Homo sapiens: one gene and its partners. The protein of the gene in region 2 purifies or fractionates together with the protein of the main gene of each other region. This does not show direct contact. Each region holds a gene or a part of one and is shown on either strand. Other genes may lie near its edges. The genes, in order: PLOD1, COL21A1 and COLGALT2.

What was found.
Region 1: the proteins of COL21A1 (region 2) and PLOD1 purify together in Homo sapiens (affinity purification with mass spectrometry; one large-scale study listed by BioGRID and IntAct). This does not show direct contact.
Region 3: the proteins of COL21A1 (region 2) and COLGALT2 purify together in Homo sapiens (affinity purification with mass spectrometry; one large-scale study listed by BioGRID and IntAct). This does not show direct contact.

Annotation. Positions count from the first base shown.
Region 1 is NC_000001.11:11,941,217-11,944,870, forward strand, and holds part of PLOD1 (procollagen-lysine,2-oxoglutarate 5-dioxygenase 1 isoform 2 precursor), read left to right. Parts: intron 1-3,305; coding exon of another isoform or gene 3,306-3,446; intron 3,447-3,654. UniProt on the Homo sapiens protein: Part of a complex composed of PLOD1, P3H3 and P3H4 that catalyzes hydroxylation of lysine residues in collagen alpha chains and is required for normal assembly and cross-linkling of collagen fibrils.
Region 2 is NC_000006.12:56,171,022-56,174,675, reverse strand, and holds part of COL21A1 (collagen alpha-1(XXI) chain isoform a precursor), read left to right. Parts: intron 1-3,547; coding exon 3,548-3,654.
Region 3 is NC_000001.11:183,971,633-183,975,286, forward strand, and holds part of COLGALT2 (procollagen galactosyltransferase 2), read right to left. Parts: intron 3,583-3,654; coding exon 3,465-3,582; intron 2,119-3,464; coding exon 1,984-2,118; intron 1-1,983. UniProt on the Homo sapiens protein: Beta-galactosyltransferase that transfers beta-galactose to hydroxylysine residues of collagen.

The DNA of each region.
Region 1 (3,654 bases), on a different chromosome or scaffold from region 2:
AAAAGTACTTTGTTTGTTTGTTTTGTTTTTTGTTTTTTGTTTTTGAGAGGGAGACTTGCTCTGTCACCCAGGCTAGAGTGCAGTGGCACCACAAAAGTACAAAAGTACCTTCCATGTTGCTGCTTTTTTTTTTGAGACAGAGTTTCACTCTGTCACCCGGGCTGGGGTGCAGTGGCACAATCTTGGCTCACTGCAACCTCTGCCTCCTGGTTTCAAGTGATTCTCCTGCCTTAGTCTCCTAAGTAGCTGGGATTATTATTATTATTATTATTATTATTTTTGAGATGGAGTTTCACTTTTGTTGCCCAGGCTAGAGTGCAATGGCACAATCTGGGCTCATTGCAACCTCTGCCTCCTGGGTCAAGCAATTCTCCTATCTCAGCCTCCTGAATAGCAGGGATTATAGGCGCCTGCCACCATGCCCAGCTAAATTTTTTTTGTATTTTTAGTAGAGACGGGGTTTCATCACATTGGTTAGGCTGGTCTCAAACTCCTGACCTCAGGTGATCCGCCCGCCTAGGCCTCTCAAAGTGCTAGGATAACAGGCGTGAGCCACCGCGCCCGGACTAGTAGCTGGGATTACATGCACCACCGTATAACTTGCAGTATGTAATATGCACCACTGCCTGGCTAATTTTTGTATTTTTAGTAGAGACGGGGTTTTGCCATGTTGGCCAGGTGGGACTTGAATTCCTGACCTCAGGTGATCTGTCCACCTTGGCCTCCCAAAGTGCTGGGATTACAGGTGTGTGAGCCACTGTGCCCGGCCTTTTTTTTTTTTTTTGAGACAGAGTTTCACCCTGTTGCCCAGGCTGGAGTACAGTGGCACAACCCTGGCTCACTGCAACCTCTGCCTCCTGGGTTCAAGCAATTCTCGTGCCTCAGCCTTCTGAGTAGCTGGGACTACAGGCTCTTGCCACCACGTCTAGCTAATTTTTGTATTTTTAGTAGAGACGGGGTTTCACCATGTTGGCCAGGCTGGTCTCAAATTTCTGATCTCAACTGATCTGCCTGCCTCAGCTTCCCCTCACTTCCCAAAGTGCTGGGATTACAGGTGTGAGCCACTGTGTCAGGCCTCACGTAGCTGCTTAAGGCCAGAATGTACAGTGTGTCTTGGTCATGCCCAGTCCCAGCCATGGTGAGGGAGAGGGAGACCAAGGAAATAAAGATGTGGCCCTGGCCTGGCAGAGGGAGAAGGAGCAGGTTTGTACCAATACGTCAACTACTGGGCAAACCAAGACTGCACGTGCAAAGGAGTGACCACATGGGATGAGATTAAGGAGGGCTTCCTGGAGGAGGTAGACTGGAGGCCTCTTTAGGGGAAGGAATGTGTGTTGCAGACAGGTCAAGGGAATGGGGTGCAGGCTGGGTTTACTGAGGCTGTTTCCTTGGGGATGTTAGGAGGTCATGCCAGGGTCTCTTGTTGGAGGGCTTGCCTTCAGTTCTCTTGTTGTGAACCGCCTCCCAGACCCCTGCATTGCAGCCCAGTGTCAGCGGACCAAGGGGATGGATTGGACCAGTGATTCCCAAATGTGGCTGACATCAGAAATCACCTGGGAAAGGTAGGAAAAATCCAGACTCCTGGGCCCACCTCAGACCCCTAGCCCTGGGGCCTAGGAGCCTGGATTCCACAACCTCTCTTGTGATGCTGATGTGTGGGCAGGTTTGGGACCCTCTGAACTGGACAATCACGTGGGATCCTCAACCAGAGAGGCAGGCTCTGCGTGGCCCAAGGAACCCGGGAGTTTTTTTTGTTTGTTTGGTTTTTTGTTTTTTGTTTTTGTTTTTGAGATGGAGACTTGCTCTGTCACCCAGGCTAGAGTGCAGTGGCATTATCTCGGCTCACTGCAATCTCTGCCCCCTGGGTTCAAGCAGTTCTCTGCCTCCACCTCCCGAGTAGCTGGGATTACAGGCTCCCGCCCACCACCATGCCTAGCTAATTTTTGTATTTTTAGTAAAGATGGGGTTTCACCATGTTGGCCAGGCTGGTCTTGAACTCCTGATCTCATGATCCACCTGCCTTGGCCTCCCAAAGTGCTAGGATTATAGGCATGAGCCACCGTGCCCGGCTTTTTTTTTCTTTCTTTTTTTTTTTTTGAGACAGAGTTTTGTTCTTGTCGCCCAGGCCGGACTGCAATGGCACAGTCTCTGCTCACTGCAGCCGCCACCTCCCGGGTTCAAGCGATTCTCTTGCCTGAGCCTCACGAGTAGTTGGGATTACAGGCATGTGCCACCACGCCCGGCTAATTTTTGTATTCTTAGTAGAGACAGGGTTTCACCATGTTGACCAGGCTGCTCTCAAACTCCTGACCTCAGGTGATCCACCTGCCTCAGCCTCTCAAAGTGCTGCGATTACAGGCGTGAGTCACCACGCCTGGCCACGGAACCTGGGGGTTAAGGTCCCAGTGTGGGCTCTCAGCAGCACTGTTTCCCTGGAAAACAGGGAATAGACAGGTTATAGGGAGGAAAGTGGGCATGTGGGGAGGGCACAGCTAGACAGCTCCCTTACATAGATAGAGAGACAGGGCCCTCTCAACAGATGGCCTGGCCACCGTCCCTGGCTGGGCAGTGCATGCATTTAGGTTAAGAGAGGAGACTCTGGGTTCAGGCTTGTGTCCAAGTCCTGGTGCTGCTGCTTCCTAGCTCCCTTGGGCACATTACTCGCCAGCTGTACCCTTGGTTTCCTAACTGGAAAGTCGGGGGTTAGTATGTGTGAAGTGCTTGGAACAGCATTGGCTGGGCACGGTGGCTCATGCCTGTAATCCAGCACTTTGGGAAGCTGAGGCAGGCAGATCACCTGAGGTCATGAGTTTGCGACCAGCCTGGCCAACATGGTGAAACCCCATCTCTACTAAAAATACAAAAAATTAGCTGGGCGTGGTGGCCGGCACCTGTAATCCCAACTATTTAGGAGGCTGAGGCATGAGAATCGCTTGAACCCAGGAGATAGAGGTTGTAGTGAGACAAGATCTAGCCACTGCACTCCAGCCTGGGTGACAGAGCGAGACTCTGTCTCAAAAAAAAAAAATTGTGTCTGGCACACAGAAAATGCTCGATGAAGGTAAGCCATTATTGTTGCTGTTATTGAGAAGCAGGAACCTGAGAAAGGGGCTTTGAGCCACGCCACCCCATCCCCTTCCCCCACCCCTGCTGCTGGAGTTCAAGAGCCTGTTCCATCAAGAATCCTGAATTGCGCATGCACGCGTACACACACACACACACACACACACACACACACTCACTCACATGCTCTCACGCTGGCTTTTTCCATCCATGAAATGTGACACTCTTCCTGTCCCCAGCAGCCCCCTGTTGCCAAGAGGGCCTCAGAGCTGGTGGCTCTGGTTCTCTTCACCTGGGGAGAGACTTCACCGTCCTGGCAGGAGCTCGGGGGAGCCCTTCCCCAAGTGTGAGCAGCATCCCTCGTTTCTGGATCCCAGGTTCAGGTAGTGAGGCCTCTCCTTCCCACACCTGCCTGGTGTATCCACCCCCTCCTCCCCCAGCACCGCAGCTAATCCCTGCCAATCCCTGCTGGGCCGCCTGGCGCCAGCCCTCTGCCCTGGGGCCAGCTCCCTGCCCCGGCTACCCCTGCCCCAGCTACCCCTGCCCCGCCAGCTCTGGCAAGCCAGGCCCCTTTGTTCCTACAGTCTAGGT
Region 2 (3,654 bases):
GTGTTTTGATTACTGATTTAATTTCCTTTAATCTCTAGTTATAGGTATGTTCATATATTCTATTTATTCATGTTTCAGTTTTGGTAGGTTATATGTTCTAGGAATTTATTCATTTCTTCTAGGTTACCAATTTGTTGATATATAGTCGTTCATAGTGGTCACTTAAAATCCTTTTTATTTCTGTGGCATCAATTGTAATATCTCTTCTTTCACTTCCTGTTTTGAGTCTTCTCTGTTTTTACTTAATTTAGTTAAAGGTTTGTCAATTTTGTTGATTTTTCCAAAAAAGCAACTCTTAGCTTTGTTGACTTCTTTCCATTTTCTATTTTATTTATTACTGCTTAAATCTAAATTATTTTTTTCCTCCTGCTAACTTCGGGCTTAGTTTGTCTTTTTTTTCTGTAGGTCCTTGAGGTATAAAGTTGTTTATTTGATTATTTGATATCCTTTTTCTTTTTTAATGTAGGCATTTATTGCTATAAACTTCTCTCTTAGTACTGTTTTCCTGCATCTCATAAATTTTGGATGTTGTGATTTTGTCATCACGTATTTTCTAACTTTGTCTCTGATTTCTTCTTTGACCTGATGGCTATTCAAAAGTGTGCTATTTAATTTTTACATATTTGTGAATTTTTCAATTTTCCTCCTGTTGTTAATTTTTAGTTTTATTCCATTGTGGTTGGAAAATATACTGGTATGATTTCAGCCTTCTTAAATAAGACATGTTTTGTGATTTAACATGTGGTCTGTCCTGGAGAATGTTTCATGTGCAATTGAAGGGAATGTGTATTCTGCTGCTGTTTGGTGGAATATTCTGTATGCATCTGCTAGGTTCATTTGGTCTATAGTATTGTTCAAGTCTTCTATTTCCTTATTGATCTTCTGTTTGAATGTTCTAATCATTATTGAAATCCTCTACTATTATTGTGTTTCTTTCTATTTCTCCCTTCAGTTCTGTATATGTCTGCCTCGTATTTTTGTTATCATGATGTTGGCTGCATATATAATCATAATTATTATATCTTCCTGGTGAGTTGACCCTTTTATCATAGTAGGATATCTTTCTTTGTCTCTTGTTATAGTTTTGTACTGTGTGATATAAGTATAGACATCTCTGATGTCTTTTGGCTACCATTTGCATGGAATATCTTTTTTCATTTTTTCACTTACAGCCTATGTGTGTCCTTAAATTTAAAGTGAGTCCTTTTCATTTCTCTTTTCTTTTCCTTTCCCTTTTCCCTTTTCCCCCCTTCCCTTCCCTTTCTTTCCCTTCCTTCCCCTTCCCCTTCTCCTTTCCCTTTCCTTTGTCTCATTCTGTTGCGCAGGCTGGAGTGCAGTGGCATGATCATAGCTCACTGCAGCTTCAACCTCCCAGACTCAGTCAATCCTCCCACCTCAGCCTCCTGAGTAGCTGAGACTACAGGCACATGCCACCATGCATGGCTAATTTTGTTGTTTTTTGTTTGTTTGCTTTTGTTTTTGTTTTTGTAGAGATGGGGTTTTGCCATGTTGCCCAGGCTAGAGTCTTTCATAGATAGTATATAGCTGGATCTGTAGCTCTAAACCATTCAGTCTCTCTATGTACTTTGATTAAGGAGTATACTCACTTACATTTAAGGTAATTACTGATAGGGAAAAATTATTGTTGCCATTTTGGTAATTATTTTCTGTCTTTCCTGTAGCTTTTTGTCCCTCTTTTTTTCTTTTACTGTCTTCCTTTGTGTTTTATTGCTTTTTTTGTAGTGATGTCCTTTATCATTTTATTTATCTTCCGTAGGTATTTTCTTTGAGGTTATCATAGGGGTTACATGAAACATCATGTAATTATAACAACTTATTTTAAGTTGGTATGAAATTAAATTACATATAAATATTCTATATTTTTGCTACCTGTCCTTTGTTACTGATGCCACAAATTGCATCTTTTTATATTTTATATCTGTTAACATATTTTTAAAGTTACAGTTTTTAAAAATGCTTTTGTCTTTTAACTTTTACACCAGAATTAAAAGTCATTTATGCACACTGTTACAGTATTATAATATTGTGTGTCTGTCTATATATTTACTTTTATCTGAAAAATTTATACTATCTTATGCTTTTATGTTGCTGATTAGTATACTTCTGTTTGATCTTGAAGGACTCCTTGAGAATTTCTTATAAGGCAGGTCTGATGGTGATGAACTTTCTCAGCTTGTGTTTATCTAGAAAAGTCTTTATTTCTCCTTCATTTTTGAAGAACAGTTCTGCCAGACATAGCATTCTTGTTTGGCAGGTTTTTTCTTTCCTTTCAGCACTTTGAATATGTCATCCCACTCCTGGCCTGCAATGGTGCTATTGAGAAATCTGCTGATAGTCTTATCAAGGTTCCCTTGTACATAACAAGTCTCTTTTTTCTTGCTGCTTTCAAAATGTGATCTTTGCCTTTAACTTTTGACGATTAGATTACAATGTGTCTCAGTGTGGATTTCTTTGGGTTTAACTTAGCATATATTAGGCTTCTTGAATTCGAGTATCCATATCCTTTCCCAGATTTGGGAAGTTGTTGGCCTCATCTCTTTAAATAAGCTTTTTGTCCCCTTTTCACCCTCTTCTTTTTTTTTTTTCTGGAACTCGCAAAATGCATATATTGGTATGCTTGATGGTGTTGCTTAAATCTCTTAGGCTTTCTTCACTCTTTCTCTTCCTTTTTCTTTTTGTTTCTCTAACTGGATAATTTCAAATGACCAATTATTGAGTTTGCTGATTCTTTTCCCTCTGCTTGTTAAAGTCTGCTATTAATCATCTTTAGTAAATTTTTTCAGTCATTGTATACTTCAGCTAAAGTATATCATACTTATTACCTATATAGCTGACTATGTAATGCTAATGATTATTCTTAAGAAAATATTCTTTATAAGTATGATTAATATATAATTATAGATGAGATAATATGTCCGTCTGAAGAACTTTCATGAATAGATGGGACCCAGGTTAAGTTTTTTCCAGAGAGACAGACTAATGATATTTGAGCTATAGAAATATAAGCTGCTTGAACTGGAAAGAAAATCAAGAACAGAAAATACTTTTTACCCCTTAAATGCTAAGAATGCAAGAAAAGAATTTTAGTGTTCATTTTTGAATTAAATAAATTAAAAGCATTATCCAAAGTTGTATGACTAGTTAATAGGAAATCCTGGATGAGAATGATAAATCCTGTTCCATTGTTTTTCTTTTCCATAGGTGTTATATTGTCTCATATTGCTATTGTCTCAATTTTTTGCTAAAGACAATACATTAACAAATATTTATATTTTTGTTTTACTTTTATCCCTTATTTTTTAGAGAAAAAAGCATATTAAGATCTCACTCTTAAATGTGTAAAATACTTCTACATTTTCTCAGAAAATGTATTCATATACATTTATATACTATACATTTGTATACATATGTAGATTTTATAATTCTAATGATAGAATACTATATTGTCTAGTATTTCTCCCTTGATTTTTCTTTTATTGTTTGAATAGTCCATGATTAACCAACTTTTATTGCTTTTGCTTTATAGAATCTGTCTGTCCAACACGAATTCCAGTGGCAGCTCGTGATGAAAGGGGATTTGATATTCTTTTAGGTTTAGATGTAAATAAAAAGGTTAAGAAAAGAATACAGCTT
Region 3 (3,654 bases), on a different chromosome or scaffold from region 2:
ACACAGAAAATAGCACGCATTCAAAATCTCTTACAGCTAGAAGAAATAATTACAACAAAAGAGGAATGCTTCATCCAGTGGTGTACTGGACCACACATTGTTAAATTTTCAGAAAGTTTGCAAACCAGTTGACATGTTGATAGCTTGGAATCCATAAAAACAAAAATCACGTTAATCCCCACCACTCTAATGACACCTCATGTGGCAGTTTTACATGTTTTTAATAGCTGTATCATCAAGTGGCTATACTGCAGTTTACTTAACCTTTCCCTTAGCTTAACAACATTTAAGCTGTTTGCATGGTGGGAGTATTTAAACCATAAAAATTGGCAATGCTACCAACTAGGGTTTTTCCCACAAAGAGCCAGTTATTAAACATTTATCAGCACACTACTGACCTTATTTCTCATCCAAAACAAAACCAAATATAAAGGGGAGACTCAAACTTTAGCCCTTTGGCCATGAGAATACATTGAACATACTCCCTCTTTTTTTGAGACAGGGTCTCAGTTGCTTAGGCTGCAGTGCAGTGGTGTGATCATAGCTCACTGCAGCCTCAACTTCTTGGGCTCAAGCAATACTCCCTGCTCAGCCTCCCGAATAGATGGAACTATAGGTGTGCACGACACCACAACTGGTTAATTTTTTGATTTGTTGTAGAGATGTGGTTTCGCCATGTTGCTCATGTTGGTCTCAAACTCCTGGGTTCAAGTAATTGTCCTACCTCAGCTTCCCAAAGTGTTGAAATTACAGGCATGAGACACTGCTCCTGGCCAACATATTTTGCTTAGCACATTTTTATCCTACATTGATACATATTACATTAATCAGTTGAATTTATCTAATTCTTTAATTAAAGAATAAAAAATATAACCAGCCATGAGCATTCACTAAAACAGACCACTATTTTGAAGATTTTACTATGAAAAAAAGAAATAATAAAAAATCAAACCTTTTTTAACTTGAATTTTATAAAAATAACCTACCATGGTAGTTTTCATTATTAGAACTCTTTGGAAATAAATTTGGCAACATACATCGAAGGTCATTGAAATATTTGTACTTTTTTTTTTTTTTTCTTTTTTGAGAGGGAGTCTCGCTCTGTCACCCAGGCTGGAGCGCAGTGGCGCGACCTCGGCTCACTGCAAGCTCCGCCTCCCAAGTTCACGCCATTCTCCTGCCTCAGCCTTCCGAGTAGCTGGGACTATAGGCGCCCAACACCACGCCTGGCTAATTTTTTATATTTTTAGTAGAGATGAGGTTTCACCATGTTAGCCAGGATGGTCTCAATCTCCTGACCTTGTAATCCGCCCGCCTTGGCCTCCCAAAGTGCTGGGATCACAGGTGTGAGCCACCGCGCCTGGCATATTTGTACTGTTTGACTCAGTAATTCCACTTCTAAAAAGCTATCCTAAGGATATAATCTTAAATGCTGAAAAATTATATTAATCATGACGGTCACGATAGTTAAAAAGTTGTGAATAATTTAAATGTTTTTCAAACCGAGATAAAGGTTAAGTAAATTGGAACATAGCCACTTGATGATAACACAGTTACTAAAAACGTGCAAGTTTCTATCTATGATGTTGTTACGGTGATGGGGATTTAACATCTGTCTTGTTGGTTTTCTTTTAAACTTTTTTTAATTTCTAAGTTTTTCTATAGTGTTCTTATGTTAGTTTTGTAAGGACAAAAAGAATTAATTAAAAATAGTAATTCCTGAATCAGGAATTGGCTAATTTGACGTTTCTAAGGCTAAGCTCTTTAGACTATTTTTTTCATAATAAATTAACACAGAAGAGCCCAACTGGGTGTAGCATTGGACCCAGATTTACTGCCCTTCCTAAAAAATGCTTGCTCTGGGAACACAATGACACGCATGTTTCAAGGGAGTAAACAAGAGAAAGGTGAATGGGACTACTGTTGACCGGGTGTTGCCTTGTTAAAACTAGTAGCCTTAATTCATTTAAGCAAAAGACTTGCCTTAGGGGTGATTCCGCACCAGAAATTAGAATACAGGCCCCGAGACTCCAGCATGGGGGCCACAATAGTTTTGTTTTCTGCAATCAGTAGATTGAGGGTCTGTGGATTAGTCAGGAAATTGTCAACATCTATGAACTAGGAAAAGAAAAGGATAATGTTAGGTGAAAAGGTACTTTTCAGTAATGAGTTTGAGAATAACCCAGCCCTTCTGAAGGATCCCAGAAACTTGCTCATGACATATGGAACCAGCTATCTATGTCCTCCTTATTGAAACCCATTGCAGCTAGGTGGCTTTCATTCAGTCAAAATATATTTAGTCTAACTTTCGTATGTTGGGCTCTGCATAAGGCACTAAGCAGTAAATTGGTGCTGCCATACTGGGCATAGCCTCAACCAGGAACCAACCTACACTTTGGCTAGTGTTTTAGGCACAAGATATTAATGGCTCCCAAGCCATTAAAGGTTCATTCAAAAACACTTATTGGCTGCCCAGTCTAGGTACAGATGGGCATGCCTACTTAGCTTTTCTATAGTAATGCCAGAGTAGCTCAAAACAGATCTATCAATGAATTTTAATGTGACAAGTAGAATTTTTGTTTAAGTACATTATATCAACCCATGCTAACCAGTGAAGCTATTTCCTATTCTTAGAAGTCCATGTTAACAGTGATTTATTTAGAGACAGTATAACAACAGATTCTAATTTATAAAAGAAATAATCATACTGAACTATACACTGAAAAAGGGATAAACTGACAGATTTTACCTTTTGTAGGTTTTATCACAATAAAAAATTCAGAAGTCTTCATTTTTATGATAGTCCATCTGTTTACCCCAAATTTTGTGATTTAACATTTGTACACTTCAATGGCATTTAAACAGCTACACAATGTTAAATATTGTCAGTACAATTTGAAAACTTCTATGAAAGGATTTGTGTCACAAGTGTGCGTGATACATTTTTGGGCAGATTTTCACTGTGGTTGAGGGGATGGGGATGGACATAAATTCTCCAAAGAGAGCATCACTGTGCCAAGCAACAGATGCTACTCCCCAGATCATTCAGGAGCAAAAGGGAACCATTTCAGAGCTGTTCAGCTGAATCACTTTTTTAGATAATTACTTTTTCATATCCCCCAAATTCTTCCAAAAAGTTGTAAGAACAACTTACATTGCTTTACCTACAGCCTTTCCTGTGAGCTAAAAATATGCAGAGTTCTTATGCCTGTTGCATGGCAGAGACCAAATAATTCAGGCACTTCTTCACTTACCCACTGAAAATGCATGTGGGCCTGAAGATGAAGTCCAGGTAGCCCAATTTTAAACTACCAAAAATTTCATTGTGCCTTTCTTAAAAAGTGGGGGAGGCACTGCCTAATCAAAAAGGTTGTTTTGATTGCTTCCATGGTTCTAGTTTTTGGACGACTGATTTGGATACACCTGAGATGACAGTTGTCAAGAAATCAAACATCTGTTTTTACCAGAATGTAGTCTGACCATTTTTCCCTCGCAGTTCGAAGGGCTGCCTGTCGTAGTTTCATCACATGGGCAAACCGGGAGGTTGGCCAGTGCTTTGGTCCAATTTCATCAGGGTAAGACCTAAAATAATAATAATAGCTCATCATTATTGAGTGCCTACATGTACCAGGCTCTGTCCTAAATGTTTATATG